Regions from separate parts of the Homo sapiens genome. Here region 1 is linked to region 2. A link means that fine-mapping ties the variant in region 2 to the expression of a gene that starts in the linked region. Tissue or cell type: whole blood. Region 2 holds a variant in brackets; the other region holds the start of a gene. All regions are shown on one strand. Distances are between the middles of the regions.

Region 1 (8,000 bases), 130 kb before region 2:
GGCCAGGTAGCATGGGACGGGGTGGGCTGGAAATGGAGGCCCACATGGCCAGGTAGCGTGGGATGAGGTGTGCTGGAAATCAGGGTCTGGGAAGGTGGAGCAGTTTCAGGTGATGCTGGAGCTGGGTGTGGGAGTTGGGGCCCGGGAGGGATGGAGGAGGAAGTCCCTGCAGTGGGGGTCCTGGGAACAGGGAGGCCGGATGCACTGCTGTCCCCACCCGTGGAGTCTCTAGGACGAGGGTGGGGCTGACTCCCAGGACTTGGGAGGGAGGGGGTCAGGTTGGGTCAGGGAAGAGACGACAGCGGGTGGAGGTTTGTGTGTGTTTCAGATAGAGACGGCTGTGCATGGGTGTGAGCTGTTGAGGCATTTTGCCCGAGCGTATCTTAGAGGTGGTGGCATTTAGGGATGAGGGGTGGGGTGTCACTTCACCTCTCGGAGCCTCTGCGTTCTTCCCTAGGACATGGGAATGGTCACAGGATTCAACCACACCTGGTCAGGGAGCAGTGGGAACGGGCTCAGCACTCGCACTGTGGAGGAGGCACCTGAGGAGCAGCTGTTTCCCCGCAGGAGCCCGAGGGTCACCAGAGGCCTCCTTGCCCCTCAGGGCGGAAGCCCCACCTTCCCGGCCCTCTTCAGTCCCCCAGGCCCCTGGGACCCTACAGAGGCAGCTCAAGCATCCCAGCCTTACCCCACAGAGCAGTGTCCCCCCTACTCACCCCCGACAGCTTCCCTATTCCTGACACCCAGGTGGCCAGAACCACAATTTAGGCCATTACCTCACCCCAGCTCCCACTGGAGGATGGAGGCCTCAGACGACCCCTGGCCAGTGGCCCCTCAGAAGGTGGACAGAGGCCGAGCGGCCTCCAGGACAGCAGCACCGTCTGCGGGCAGGTGGGGCTGGCAGTCTTGGGAGAGCCCCCTCCCTGGACAGGACATCCCCTCCCAGGAGGCAGAGGCCGCTGTGGTCCAGGGTGTTCACATTCAGCCCCTCCTGGCAGGGCTGGGTGGAGTCAGGGTGATTTCCAAGAGGGGTTCGGGCTCCAGAAAGCCAAAGGAGGAGCGCCATGTGAAAAAGAAAAAGGAGACCCTTGCCCAGCTGCGTGACCCTGATTCATCGTTTCATTTCATCAGCCAGGGTGGGTTCCATGCCCTCGAAGCCATCTCCCCGCTCCTTCCCCCTCCTCCCAGCCTTCCTCCTGTGAGCCTCCACTTCGCTTCTGTACAAGATGAGTCCCTCTGCCTAGGTTCCAATCCAATGCTGCAGCTCACTCACTGTGTGATCTTGGACACAGCGATGAGCTGTTGAGCCTCTCTGTGCCTTGCTTTCTTTATCTGTGCAATGGGCATGGCAATAGTAAGACCTCCTTCAGAGGGTGTGGTAAGGGCTAGACACCTGCACAGTCCCTAGTACACAGTACATCACAGAAGCTCAATCAATGCGACCTACTAGTATCAGTTAGCCTGGTTGTCTCAGCCACCCACTTTCCCTTTGTGGGCCTCAGTTTTTCCTTCCATAAAATGGGTATGGAACAGCAGTGTGGCTCTGGAGGAAGAACATACACTTTGGGGTCAGATCCGACTTTTCCTAAGCCTGGGTCCATCACCTAAAGGCTGAGGGGCCTTCGGCAAGTCGTGTAAACTCCCCTAGCTCGGCTTTCTGTACCTATAAAATGGCTGTAACTGGCATTCCCCCTTGAGGGGTTGTTCCCAGAGCTTACAGAAGCACCCAAGGACGGCAGAGCTGATGTCAGTGTTGGGAGGTGCAGAAAGGGTGGCCCATATCACAACCTACGCCCACCCCCCACCCATCAGCCTGAGCAGAGCCCACCCTCTGAGTCACCCACTCACACAGCCACCGCGTCTTATCACAGCTGATGATGGTCTTCAAGGTCCCTGGAGTGGTGTAAGTGATGACCTCATCTGAGACGAAGCCTGGACTTGGGCAGGGGTCAAGCCAAAGGGCCGAGCCTGCCCACAGCTTGGAGGGCTCCTCTGCAGGCCCAGGATGCGCACTGCTGTCCAGCTCTGGGCGGAGATGGAGGGATGGGATGGGGCCATGGGGTCCTGGCATGGGACAAGAGTACCCTGGAGAGAGGCAGACCCAGGCCCAGCCTGGAGGGAGTGAATTCCATTCCACTGAGGATAAGCAACGTCTCATCTTATGCTTGTTTGTAAAGAACTATCAATATTTCGGGCAGGGTGACAAGCGGGAGTAAGTAGAAATGAGCGAAGGAGGGGTGTACGTAAATTAAACAAGCTTCCTGGCATTGTTGAAGAACGAGCTGAGATAACACGGGCCAGAGGGCCGGCCCTGCGCCTGCACACGTTGGCCTGGCGGAGCCTGTATCTGGAGCTCTGGGCTGACGACAGAGGCGGTCCTGTGCTGGGAAGCCAGAGACTTAGAGGAACCTCCCGGGTGGATCCCAGGCCCTTGGGGAATCCTCTCCTACTCCTGGCCCCTAAGTCAGGTGTTCAGGGTTGGGGATGGGAGGCCCCAAAGTTTACTGAGTGAGAGGCAGTGCAGGGCGGGAGCAGCAGGGGGCGCGGCTCTCCTGAGGACAGCGCTGGGCTCCTGCCAAGCTCAAGGCAGCCACTGTGAGCCCTGCCTGCCCATTTCAGGGAAGAGCAAAGGCCACCCCAGGGAACTGCATCCCAGCTGCAGAGCAGAGAAGGGTCTTTTCACTCCGGGCCTCAGTTTCCCTCTCTGTACAAGAGGACTAAATCCCCACTGCAAGGTGGTCAAGATGGTGACCGTTGGGGGCAGCATGGTCTCCAGGGAGGAGCAAGGACTTGACCTAAGGACAGGCCAAGATCTGAGGCCCACCTGCCAGAATCTCTGGCCTTGCACTCCCCCAGCCCTGTTCTAAGGATCCTAACGCCCACCTCTCAGGCGCTTCGTGAAGACTGAGTCAAGTGTATGCAGAGCGCTCCAGCAGCCTCAGGGCCTACACATCGGTAGCTGTGGTTCCTTGGAAGCTGTGGCAGGCTGTGCAAACTCTGACCTGCTGCAGCGCCGGTCCTGGACTCTCTCAGAGACTCAGTTTCCCCATTGTAGAGGAAAAGCTTAGGGGAAATGAGCTCTTGGGCCCTTCCCAGGGACTTAGTTTTCTGCGCACTGAAGGATCCAGGGATGGAAAAGTGTTGATCTTCAGGGCCAGGTGTCTGCAGGAAAACACAGGCCCCCCAAAAAGCCAGCTCTGGGCCACAGTAGCCCACCAAGGCTTACTCGAGGGGCAGGCATCCTGGGCACGTGAAAAATTCTCCTTGCGCCTTAGGCAAGCCCACCCTGCAGAGACATGAACCGGGAGCCCTGGCCAAGGTTGAGGGAGGTTCAGCCCAGCCCTGAGGTCCCCAACTCCTAGCATTCTGGGTCATTCCAAAAAATGGCCTGAAATTCTCCACATCTTCAAAGTAAAGTGCACTTGAGGTTTGTAGAGGCAGAAACGCAGGTGCTATTGCCCCTTGTCAAAGGGCCTTTTAGGGGGAGAAGCTCCAGGTCCCTTCTCTCCCCGTCCCCTGGGACCCTTCAACCTTTCACTCTCTCTGGGTCCTATGGGGGCTCACACTTGGCGCCCCGCCTCCTCCCACCTCATCCTCCCCAGACATCTTGTCTGATGGGGCCGCTCCCTACTCAACGCCTCCCCAGGCCTTTGAGGACCCAGGGCCCTCAGGGATCAGGCCCCTCCACCTTCCCATTCCCCGAGGCCCTTTAACCTCCAGCTCCCCCTCCCTCCTCTGGACCAGAGGTACCCCTCCCCATTCTTAACTTGGGTATCTGTGAACCTGGATGGAAAAACGTCTTTATTTACCCCAACAACTCCAACTGAAGTCCAGCATTCATTCCTTTGGGGGTGCAGTTGACCCCAGCCAGCAGGGCCTGTGGCTCCACGGCCAGCAGAAGCAGTGTTTACATCCCCATGTTACCGCCCTCACCGAAGGTGTCTCCAGTGGCAGCCCTCTGCACAGGGCTGCTGCGAAGTGTCCACTGGTATCAGACGACAGACCGACCAGAACCTGCCATTAACATGCTGATAAAGAAGCCCATAGGCCACGCTGTCATGAATTGTTTCATGTATTTTGATAACTGTGTTTTGATAGAATTGTTCCCCTTTGTGACCCCATGGTCTTTGTTTTATGCGTTTAAATCTACTTGACGACATCGTTCTGAAAAGGACACCCAGGCTTCGCCAGGCAGCCCAGGGTACTAGGAACACACACAGTGTGAAGACCGCAGCTCCAGGCTGTGCGCGCGGCGTTATCTCCTGCTGCCCCGACCTGCTTTTGCTTGGGAGCCTCTGCCCAGGTCACGGCCAGCTCCCGCTTCCCATCCTTCCTCTTCAGGCTTGACATTCACCTCCAAGGGGGGTTCTGCCTTCTCTCACAACTCCGCAGCCTTCACCCCATCAGCTGACGCACTGTCACCAGATTCTGACTCTCGTGATGGGACCTGGGTCTGAAGGGGCCCTGCAGAAAATGCAGGAGCAATGATGAGAATGGAAACAGCTTCCGGTTCCGTGGACAGCGAGGACTCGGGAACACTGCTCAGCCATGGCCTCTGTGGTTCTTCCAACGACCCTATGAGGTTGAGAAATGCTGTCAATTCCCCTTTCCTGGAGGAGGAAACTGAGGCACAGAGGAGACTGGACACGGACAGACCCCTCCAGAGCGGGGAGAACGCATCCCCCAACGTTTCTGGGATAGGCTGGGCCCGGGGGTCCCCACCAGAAAGGACCCCTGCGTGTCTGTAGCCTCGGGTTTTCTCGACCAGGCCGACCAGAGTCCCAAGGCCTGCCGGGTGGGTCCAGGCCCGGAAGGCCAGGCGGGGCCCTGTCGGGGCCTGGGCGGGGCTGGCGGAGGGGCCGGGCCGCCCCTTCCAGCGAGGGCGGGCTGGGCGGTCGCCTTTAAAGGCGCGGGACCCGCCGCCCGCGGACCGTCAGGCTGGAGGGAGCTGGTCCCTGCGCTCCCTGCGCCCTGGGGATGCCCCTGCCGCCCTGACGCCCGCCAGCCTGAGCCACCGGCGCATGTGACCGCGCGTCCGCCCCAGTCCCATCCGTAGGCGCCCGGCGCCCGGCCCCGCAGCGGCCTCGTTGTCCCCGCCGGCCCCCGCCCGGTCTCCCGCGCTGCCACCCGCCGCCGGCCCTGCCGCCATGCAGGCGCGAGCGCTGCTCCTGGCCGCGTTGGCCGCGCTGGCGCTGGCCCGGGAGCCCCCTGCGGCGCCGTGTCCCGCGCGCTGCGACGTGTCGCGGTGTCCCAGCCCCCGCTGCCCCGGCGGCTACGTGCCCGACCTCTGCAACTGCTGCCTGGTGTGCGCCGCCAGCGAGGGCGAGCCCTGTGGCGGCCCTCTGGACTCGCCTTGCGGCGAGAGCCTGGAGTGCGTGCGCGGCCTATGCCGCTGCCGCTGGTCGCACGCCGTGTGTGGCACCGACGGGCACACCTATGCCAACGTGTGCGCGCTGCAGGCGGCCAGCCGCCGCGCGCTGCAGCTCTCCGGGACGCCCGTGCGCCAGCTGCAGAAGGGCGCCTGCCCGTTGGGTAAGCGCTCGGGGGCCAGGGAGGAAGTGAAGCTTCTTTCTCTTGGGGAAACTAAGGCCGGGAGTTAGGGCCGAGCTCGAGGTCGCCCTTCCCTGGGCACCACCGGGTGGCCCTTCAGAAATCATCCCACCAGCCCTCTGGTCTTTCAGATGAAGAAACTGAGGCCCGGAAAGGTAAACCGCTGTCCCCAAGGTCACAGAATTAGAGTCAAAAGGGAAACCCGGTGGTCTCCTGGCCACCCGAGGGGCCTCATCTAGGACTGTTTCCAGCTCTGGTCTCTTCAGAACTGATGTCTCGTGCCCATTCCCTTGATCCTTGGACCCCTGCTCTGTCCGGGTATTGAGTGAAGGGCACTCTTTCCTGCCCTAACTCTCCAGCCGGGGTGCCCTCTTGGGTGATGCCTTCTTTCCTGGAGACTGTGGTTAAGTGCATGTCTCCACAGGACTGTGTGGGAAGGGTCAGGGTGCAGGTCCCTGAACTGCTTAGGGCGCCCCAGGGAGAGGCTGCTTGGGGGAGAGAATGTCGGGGTCAGACCCTAGAACAGCCTCCCTTGAGGCAGTCGGCTCTAGGTTGCATCTCACCGTGCAGGTTGACTCTGTACGTGGAGGAAAATGCTGGAAAACCTGCTGTACCTTTTTCCCTGTTTGGGGTGCCTCTTAGGAAAGCAGACTCTGCTGTGGCCGGACAGGGGTTCACTGAAGACAGGCGACGGGCCCCAGGTTCATGGATAGGAGTCAGGGTCCTGCGTGCCATCAGCTTGCAGGTGGCAGGGAGAGATGCAGTAGCTGCCAGAACAGGCTCCGTGGAGCCTCAGGAGCACCATGGGGAGCACCAACTGCCGGGGCTCCTGGGAAGCCTGCAGAGGGCTTCCTCATTTTTTCTGCGGTCCGCTGAACACAATTCCAAGTGTTTTCATGGTGTAAAAAGGTTGGGGAACTGAGCGCTCTATTCCTGTAGTGGAGACTCACAGGCTCAATCTATCAGAGGTTCTGAGAAAACCTGCAGTGTCCTCAATTGATGAAACCCAGGGCTTCCCCAGAGAATTTCAACAGAGAGCTCTTCTTTTCTGGCAGAACACGTGACCTCCTCCCAGCACGCTGGGGTTCCTGGGAGCCCCGTGTGGGAAGCATCATTCGAGATTAGCTAGGATTATGTGGAAGAGCCACCGCAGGGTTTGGCGGGGAGTCCCAGTCCACCTTGTGCTGGTACAACGCCTGAGACTGGGCAGTTTATACAGGACAGAGATGTATTTCTCGCAGCTCTGGAGGCTGGAAAGTTCAAGACCAAGGTGCCAGCAGGCTTGGTTGTCTGGTGAGGGCTGCACTCTGCGGAAGGGAGGAAGCTGCGTCTTCACACGGCAGAAGTGCAGGCAGGGACAAGGCCGAACGCTGCCTGTAGCCTCTCTCATAAGGAGCTTCTGCCCACGCTCGAAAGGAGGAACCCTTGTGACCTCATCACCTCCTAACACCCCACCTTTTCATACCATCACATTGGCAACACCTCTGTTTTGGAGGGAACATGTTCAAACCATCATGGGGGTGAGGGTGATGAGGTCCGGCTTGTGTTGAGACTGCCCAGGAGGCTGAGGGGTGCGAGTGTGGGGCTGCGGGGTCTTGGAGACGTTGTCATTGACTCAACGCCTGCTGCACTGTCACAGTGGCACATCAGTTTGGGGCTTGGTGCTGGGGTACCTTTCCTGGGCCTGCCCGTTGCAGCCCAGCTGTGTGCATGGGGGCCACCTCCCCACCCCGCTCCCCACCGTGGAAGGCACTATGAGAATAGGGCTGCAGGGCTCAGGGCTGGCAGGGAGCTGGAGGCAGCCTGGGTGTTCTGAGACACTCACTGACTTCTGGAGTTCGCGTCATGAGGCACTTTCTCTGTGTGCCTGGCTGGCCCCAGGCTGGTGACAGGGCACAGCCATGTAGCAGACCCTGTTGGTGCCCTCAAGCCTCACAGACCATCGAGGGGACAGAAGGGAGGAGGAAAATAGTCTTATCCCCAGAGACAGGTGCATGGGGAGCTCAGAAGGCCAGGAGGTGGCCGTGAGCGTGGGGGGTCATGGGCTGAGGCCTCAGTGCTCCGGGGTCTGCAGTCCCAGCGCACCTCTTCCCGATGAGGTGACCTTAGACCACTTGCTCACCGTGAGTTTCCTCAAATGAGAAGCGGGGACCTGCAGGAGAGCTGCTGCCAGACACGAAGGCACACGCCCCTTGCCTGATGGGCAACCCCCAGACCACGTTGTTTCATATGTTGTTATCACTGTGGCGACCGACCCAAATCTGTCTCACCCAGCAAGGTCAGGAGAGGCTCTCCAGAGGAGGCGCTTCTGTGCCAAGCTGTGGAGGAGGACTGGGAACTGCCTGGGGAAGGATGGGGAGGACAGAGAGGGCATGGGCAAGGCAGAGACCTGCACAGGACCCGAGAGCCCTGTCGCCACCAGAGCCCACGGAGCCAGGTGGGGAAATGGG
Region 2 (8,209 bases):
TCTCATTTAGAGACATTTCTCTCCTTTATTTCTCTAAACTTCATTTCTTTCTTTCCTTCTCTTTTGAGACAGGGTCTCGCTCTGTTGCCCACGCTGGAGTGCAGTGATGCAATCATAGCTCACTGCAGCCTGACTTCCTGGGCTCTAGTGATCCTCCCACCTCCCACCAAGTAACGGACCACAGGCACACGCTACCATGCCCGGCTAATTTTTGCATTTTTAGTAGAGACGGGGTTTTGCCATATTGCCCAGGCTGGTCTGGAACTCCTGGGCTCAAGCGATCTGCCCACTTTGGCCTCCCACAGTGCTAGGGTTACGGGCGTGAGCCACTGCACCCAGCCTTCATTTTCTTTAATCCTCTCCTTCTGCCTTCTAGAGGACAAGCTTCCAATCCCTAATTCATCCTCCTGAGATAGTTATCCCAAATGCTGTGCCTGTTCTTCCAATCATTTATTTTTAATTGATGTTGGATTAACATCTCCGTTTGTGAGCAGCTCCTGGTCTCGTGTTGCTGTTCCCACTCTGCGCACCCTGTGTGTCTCTGGGCATCCCCATCATGCTCCTTTTCCATCCGTGCTTCCTGATGTCAGATGCTGCATGCTGCTGGGGACTGTTATTCCAAGGGTGCATGCTCGGGGTGGCCCACCTGCTGTGAGCTCATGATTCCTGAGGGTCATCAGCTATGACCTGGGCCATCGCTCCCCAGGACCACGGTCTCTCTTCTGCTCTCCGTGAACTTAAGCCAGGCGTGAGTTCTGGACACCGGGGAACTCTGTTTGTCGTCCCCCTTTGTGGACAGTTCGCCAGGAGACCCGTCTCCTTCAAATCCTCAGGGAAGCATCACTGGAAGCGAGCAGTCCTCTAATCGCAGCCCCCGATGGGGAGTGGGCATTGTAAGGCCCGGACTCACCCCCTGGACACCAGCACCTGGTGCTGTGGCTGCCCCAAGAGTCCCCTTCTAGCGGGAGCACCAGAACCCGAGCCAGGAGAAGTATGCCCCAGCGACACCTGGCCTACGTGGAGGGGTCTCCTTTCCAGGTGCAGGGAGGAGCACAGAGCCAGGCCCTGCAGAGGAAGGCACCTGGGAAGCACGGCACACGAACGGCCCCCCATGCCTGTACCTTAAAGGGGCTGACATAGGTGCCCTCGGGGGTGACGTCTCCCATCCGGTTCAGAAGGCTCTGGCGAGGAACTCTGACCTTGTGGAACATGGCGAAACTGTGGGGAAGCAGCAGGGCTTCTGTTAAACAGGGGTCCTGCCCTGAGGCTCTTCTCTTCTCCAAGGGCAGCCTAAAAGCTGATGCAATCCCCGAGGACAAAGAAAATGGCAGAGGGCAAGTAGACAGGAACATTCAACCAACTTTCTATTCAAAAAAGTAGTCTAGTCAGGAACAGTGGCTCACGCCCAGAATCCCAACTCTTTGGAAGACTGAGGCAGGAGGATTGCTTGAGCCCAGGAGTTTGAGACCAGCCTGGGCAACACAGTGAGACCCTGTTTCTAAAAAAGAAAAAAATGTAGGTTAAAAAATAGGCTGGGTGTGGTGGCTTACGCCTGTAATCCCAGCACTTTGGGAGGCCGAGGTGGGTGGATCACCTCAGGTCAGGAGTTCGAAACCAGCCTGACCAATATGGTGAAACCCCGTCTCTACTAAAAATACAAAAAAAAATTAGCCAGGAGTGGTGGCATGTGCCTGTAGTCCCAGCTACTCAGGAGGCTGAGACAGGAGAATTGTTTGAACCCGGGCGGCGGAAGTTGCAGTGAGCCAAGATCACGCCACTGCACTCCAGCCTTGGTGACAGAGCAAGACTCCACCTCAATAATAATAATAATAATAATAATAATAATAATAAAAGCATTGTGTATATGGTAAGTTGTACTCCAAGTACAGAACTCCAGATATTCAACAGAAAAGACGGGAACTGTGTTTCCAAAGATTGGAATCTCTGATTCTCATATTTCAATCTTAAACCAGAACCCACAGTGTAATAATATTGGCAAAATGAGGTTTAAAACTCTTCAGTCAAACAAAATAACTGGTGTGATGGCATTGGTGCTCCCTCGGCAAGGAAATTCACTTCTTTTGAACAGCTGAGCATAGGATTACACACACATTGTTATGGATCATGATGTATTAATAACCAAAGATACCTGTTATGGTTGTCTGGTCAGGAAAACCTATTACACAACAGTCTAGGGAATAAGGCTATGCTAGGTTAAGAATATTACATAAACTGTGCAAAAACCCCCCAAAACAAACTTCAAAATATCAATAGTTCCTATAGCAACTTGTCTGATTCCTAAGTTCACTTGCAATGCCTTAGGGCAGCAGTCCGCAACCTTTTTGGCACCAGGGACCGGTTTTATGGAAGACAATTTTTCCACGAATGAGGGGGAGGTGGGAGTGGTTTCGGGATGATTCAAGCACATTATATTTATTGTGCACTTTATTTCTATTATTATTACATGGTAACACATAATGAAATGATTATACAATTAGCCATAATGCAAAATTGCAAAATCAGTGGGAGCCTGAGCTTGTTTTCCTGCAACTAGATGGTCCCATCTGGGGGTGATGGGAGGCAGTGACAGATCATCAGGTATTAGATTCTCATAAGGAGCGCTCGCCTTAGATCCCTCACATGCGCAGTTCACAGTAGGATTCACGCTCCTATAAGAATCTAATGCCGCCACCGATCTGACAGGAGGCGGAGCTCAGGCAGTCATGTGAGCAATGGGGAGTGGCTATAAACACAGAGGAAGCTTTGCTGGCTCACCCGATGCTCACCTCCTGCTGGGTGGCCTAGTTCCTAACAGGCCACAGACTAGTACCACGGGGTTGGGGACCCCTGCCTACAGAATAGTCTTTTACTAAACCACAGAAGACTCATCTATAAAGAATAATCTCACATGCTGGAAGGGAACCAGAGGCACCCGTTTCCTGCGTGGGCTCTTCCTTGAGTCCTGCTCAGGATGCCCCCACACCCCCATTGTCACCCGGTCCTGGGCTGCCAGCTCTGCTGTGCTGGCCCGATTCACTTTCTCCCCTCCATCCCCACCTAGGACCCAGCACCTCCATCCCTACTCAGCTCTCCTGGGCTGATTTCCTGCAGCAACCATATTGGCTCTTTCCTAACTCTGCCTCTTCAGCCCATCCTCCCTGTGGGAGCTGGGCCGTTTCCCAAAGGCCTTCGGAATGGCGGAGGCCAATGTGGAGGATCCCCCCAAGCTGACCTCCATCTGCCCCTCTAATTGCATCGCCACCTTGCCATGAGGTGGTCCCACCTGCCTGTGGTGCCCCATCTGCCCCTCTAACAGCATCACCGCCTTGCCATGAGGTGGTCCTGCCTGCCTGTGGTGCCCCGTCCACCAGGTTCTCTCCTGGCCTCATGCCCTCCATGCAGTCACTGTTGACACCAGGCAGCCCTCGGCCCACCTGGGAATTCTATGCCCCACCCTGGGAAGGGTATGAGGCGGACCCCAGGGTGGGATCCCTCAACCATCAACGTTCCTGGTTCCTGGGTGAGCTAGCTGCCTCTCAGCAGTCTCCCGGGGCTCACCCCCCTCCATGAGGGGGCCACCGTGCATGGGGCCTGCCAGACTTAAGGGACGGGCACGTAAGTGGCATGGTATGAACAAGTCAGGTGGGGCAGACGACATCCTCTGAGGCACAAGGGCCAGGCCATGATCCTGACTCCCAGGACAGCCTGAGGGAAAGACACAGCGACAGTTTCCACACTACCAGGAGGAGCAAGGCCCTGGGGCCGGGTGGGGACGGGGCTGGAGCTCCTTAGGGAAACCTGGGTGACCTGGTGAGGGAAGAGCTCTCGGCTGCTTTGCCAGGCCCCTGCCCACCTGCAGGAAGTGAAGGGCAGCGGGGGGGCCAGCTCCTCCAAAGCCCTAGGCCCAGCTGCCCAGTTTGGTAGCAGCTTCCCCCATGCCACAGCCGCACACTCAGAACACCCCACCTCGTGAGAAAAACCTTGCCTCGGTGCCAATGGCCCCAGCGTGCTCCAGCCTGTTACTTGAAAGCCAAGGAATGCCTTTTCCAGTATGATCCGGTCACAGTCAGCGCCCTTTTTAAGGAGTGGAAATTATTCCCCCATTCTCACCACACAGAATATATTTATACTTGCAAAAACATTCCCGTGAGTTTCAAAGGAAAGCAAACTTCCACGAATTCTCAGGGGATCCCTTCTGTTCCACAAAAGCTATTACAGTGGTGGTCACATGTGGCCAACTCAAATACAAGCCAGATCCAGTGTCTCCAGCGGGAGACGTGTGCGTGTGTCACAGGTGTGTGTGTGCACAGCACAGGAGTTGTGTGTGTGTGTCACTGGACATGCACGTGGCACGGGAGGCCTGAGTGTGGCACAGAAACCCTCACTCCAATCCCAGAAGCGCCCAGACCTCAGCACACACCCCGCGCCCTGGACATCCTG[C/T]TTCTTATTGCAGCAGCTTCCTTCCTCCTTTGGGGCCTGGAAGGGCCCCCCAAGCCCAGCCCAGCCAAGCCGCCAGAGCAGGCCGTTGAGTTCGGCAGCCATCCTCCCAGCCACCGCCTCAGCTCAGGGCAAACGCACGAAGAAAGACCCTTAAGGTGCAGCCCACCTTAAGAGTCTGGCTGAAACTATCACTTGAGAAGATCTTTATGATTTTGCTTTTAGAGCTATTTGGCTAAAATTAATCCACACAATTTACGTTTACCTTGGATTTGTAGGCAGTCATCCCACATACTCAGGAGTTCTTGTAAAGTGACAAAATCTAACCTACAAATTGTAACCACTTTTTTCAAGATAAATGATTTCAACATTGGTAACAAAAATCACTAAATTATAATGCTGATCTTGGAAAAGACAGACATCCAGGCAGAAACTGGCTGGGAAACCCGGAGGGAACACTGGTATCACTGCGCCCCCTGCTGGGTGCCCTGCCCAGACCCTCCAGCCCTGGATGGGAAATGTGCATTTCTGGAAAGGGGCGGAGAGCAGGCCGCCTGCATCACCCCGGCTGGCTCCCATCCCAGCCCAACCTAGGCCTTCAAAGGCTCAGGGATCAAAGATGGACGAATCCCACTGCATCCCTGTCACCCTGCAGAGAGACACGGTGGAAAGGCTCTGGGGGCTCAGTGACCTGGCTTGGTGGAGCAGCTCTGAACCAGCGTCAAAGGGCGGTCGTTATTGTGTTAGTGGCGATCCTATAGGAGACCGTATTTCTGAGTCTTACAAGAGGCTTTACCATATCAGTGTGATGTATTAATCATTAATGGTTTGATCTAATGCTCCTTTGAATATTATCCCAGTAAGAGGTGTGGATTCAATCTCTAGAAATACGTTTATTAGGGGGGAACCAAGTGCAGGGTTTCTCTGCAATGTCCCAAAATAATGTCAAAGCCTCTCATTCATGAAACTGAATGAGCAGTGAAGAAGAGCCTTGCTCACACCCGAGGCCACCCACTGGATGTGACAATTCACCACCGCCATATGCCCGGGTGGAGATGCCTGTCGGGCCTTACGTGCACACATAGGACACTTCAGTAGATGGGTAACAGTGCCTGTGGCTGCAGAGCCCTGAAAGGGATCAGCCGGGTCTAATAAAAGGATGCAGATTCTCCAGAACAACACAGTGCTTCCTACACCCCATTTCCTGCACAGCGCTTCAGAGCTTCTCACCCTGAGGCCAGAGCCATCCTTCTCAAACAGACCAAGCCGCATTACATCCTCCAGATGGCTGGGGCTTCCCGCTGCCCTGAGGGCGAAGGGCCTGAACAGCGACCCTCCATACCTGCTACACGGGCACCGTCCATGCCAAGCGCCTCCCAGGCACCCTGCGAAAGTAGTCATTCAAGAGAACTGACAGCCGCAGGTCGGGGTGGCGCTCTCCTCCCTGCCAGCTCCAACATTAACTAGCAGGTTCCTTGTATTATTTTAGTATAAGCCAGTGAGAACCCAGAACTCTGCAGGACAGGTGGAGTTAGGAGGGCTGTGCATATGTGTCTTGTTTTGCTTTTTTTTTTTTTTTTTGCCTGAAATCACAAGAATTTGCTTTTTAACAATGTCCTTTTACTTTCTTCTCAAGTTGACACTGTATAAAAATCAATCAAGATTTTCCTCTTTAGTACAGTCTGGGGCCCTGCCTGTTTTAAAGGGCCAAGCAGAGATTTAAGACACTCCCTGCCCATCACCCTGACTTCTCAGAAGAGACAGGCAGAAGGAGGTTTCTCCATCGCTGAGCGCTCAGATGCCCACTGGCCCATCTTCTCCCTCTGGAGACAACCTGGTCATGATAACCAGTTATTTCCAACTCCTGTAAGGCAGGCTCCTCTCCTCTCCACCAGCCTCGCTATGAAACACTATATGAAACACGCATATCTAGAAACACTCCTGAGACATCTTTCAGGCTATCAGGCTCAGGCATGGTCATACCTTGTCCCACTACCCCCAAGTTATAAATCATCTCGTGGGCACAGAGGGGTCTACACCCTGCTGGATCAGGCTCTCGGGGGAGACAGCGTGTGGAGTCCAGCATTCGCAGTGAGGGAGGCACCAAATGGGCCAGTGGCCAGGAAGTTCAAGCCCGGCCTGCTCAGGCAGGGCCTGGCAGGGCCCTGGCACAGGGACCTCTCTTGTCACCTACTTTACAGATGAGGAAATGCCAAGAAAGCTGGTCAAGGTGACACAAAGGGCCGGCTGCACATCTGTCTCATTCCAAAAGTCATGCTGCTAATGACCTGGAGCTCCAAAATCCAATCCCTCAAAGACCCTCAAGGCCCTTGCGGCCTGGCCTCCCTACCCCGCCTGCATCCCAGCACAGGCCTGGGCCTGACACTTCCCACTGCTTCCTCCACCTGAAACGCTGCACATTCCAAAATCACTGGCCACTTCTCCCCGGCCACCCAGGCCTCCATGTGGCCATCAAGCATTCATTAGTCTTTCTAGGCCCCTCCCCTCTGCACGCCCCATCCAACCCTTCAGCCAGGCCTTGGCCACACCAACCCGGTGTCACATGTGTGCTGCTAAATAGATATATGTGGGCTGATTAAACAAATAAGCCAGCGGAATTCTCTTTCTAAGTGCTGTGACACTGGGATTACCCGGAAAGGAGCAAGCCTACTCTGGAGGCAGAAACTGCAGATATGGGTCCCTCGAGATCAGCATGGATGTGTGCAGAGGCCGAGCCGGGGGAGGCTCAGGATGCTGAGGAGGACCTCACACAGAGGAGGCAGCCCCCCAGGCAGGGGCCCCACCAGTTGTACACAGAGGTCTGGGTCTGATCTGAGAGTGTGGAGCCGCCTGCCAAGGTGAAGCTGGTTTGCTGAGGTCTCTGATCAAGTTGGCCTCCCAAAGTGGAGTTCAAGCAGGACGTGGCCAGTGCATGCACGGGGGCTAGGCGTAGGTCCCCACCGCATTTGAGTCTAAGAGGGCAGGGCATGGCATCCATGGGGCCAGTGAGATCTCAGACATGAGCGACAACGCAGCCTGGGCCTTGGCAGGAAGCTCAGGGCTCAGCAGCCTCTGTCACTCACCCATTATCCAGACCGTTCTGCCCGAGTTTTTTTCCTATGTCGCCAACCATCACTCCAGGCATGGGAAGAAGGGTCTTCGGGTCCCGGATCTATACAAAGCCACAGAAAGCAGCAAACAGCAACTGTTACAATCACACAAAAATCAAAACAAATGTGTTCAGAAACCCACAGGGTGGGCCATGGGCTCAACGCTGGGCGGCTGTGGGTTAAACCATCCTCCAGAAATGATACATCCAAGTCCTAACCCCAGGACCTGGGAATGGAAGCTTATTTGGAAATAGGGTCCTGCAGATATAATGAATTTAAGAGCATCAAGATAAGGTCATCCCAAATCACCCAGGTGGGCCCTAAATCCCACGGCAAGTGTCCTATGAGAATCAGAAGAGGAGTGGGTGTGGGGAAGAGGGGGCCATGTGGAGACGGAGGCACAGAGTACAGCGCTGGGGCTGTAGGGATCAGCCCCACAGGGTCAGTGGGTTTCTCCCCGTGTGTGGAGACAAGAGAGCATAGAGATAAAGACACAAGACAAAGAGATAAAAGAAAAGACGGCTGGGTCCGGGGGACCACTACCACCAAGACACGGAGACCGGTAGTGGCCCCGAAGGCCAGGCTGCACTGATACTTATTGGATACAAGACAAAGGCAGGATAAGGAGAGTGAGCCATCTCCAATGATAGGTAAGACCACAT

The links. PIP is the estimated chance that this variant, and not a neighbour inherited with it, causes the effect.
Region 1: HTRA3 starts here. The variant in region 2 is fine-mapped to the expression of HTRA3 in whole blood (TOPMed, PIP above 0.99).

The regions. Positions count from the first base shown.
Region 1 is chr4:8,264,822-8,272,821 of GRCh38, forward strand. HTRA3 (HtrA serine peptidase 3) reads left to right here and starts at 4,933. Exons shown (of 9, transcript NM_053044.5): 1 at 4,933-5,532. The coding sequence starts at 5,148. It overlaps LOC105374373 (a long non-coding RNA gene), which reads right to left and starts at 5,360. Exons shown (of 2, transcript XR_001741572.2): 1 at 5,286-5,360; 2 at 3,785-4,575. RefSeq lists a silencer at 2,469-2,618.
Region 2 is chr4:8,398,435-8,406,643 of GRCh38, forward strand. ACOX3 (acyl-CoA oxidase 3, pristanoyl) reads right to left here. Exons shown (of 18, transcript NM_003501.3): 7 at 7,521-7,609; 8 at 1,122-1,218. Among named protein-coding and RNA genes, the nearest start is that of ACOX3, 38 kb to the right of the region's middle. RefSeq lists a silencer at 4,990-5,187. The variant C/T (reference allele first, on the strand shown) is at 4,441.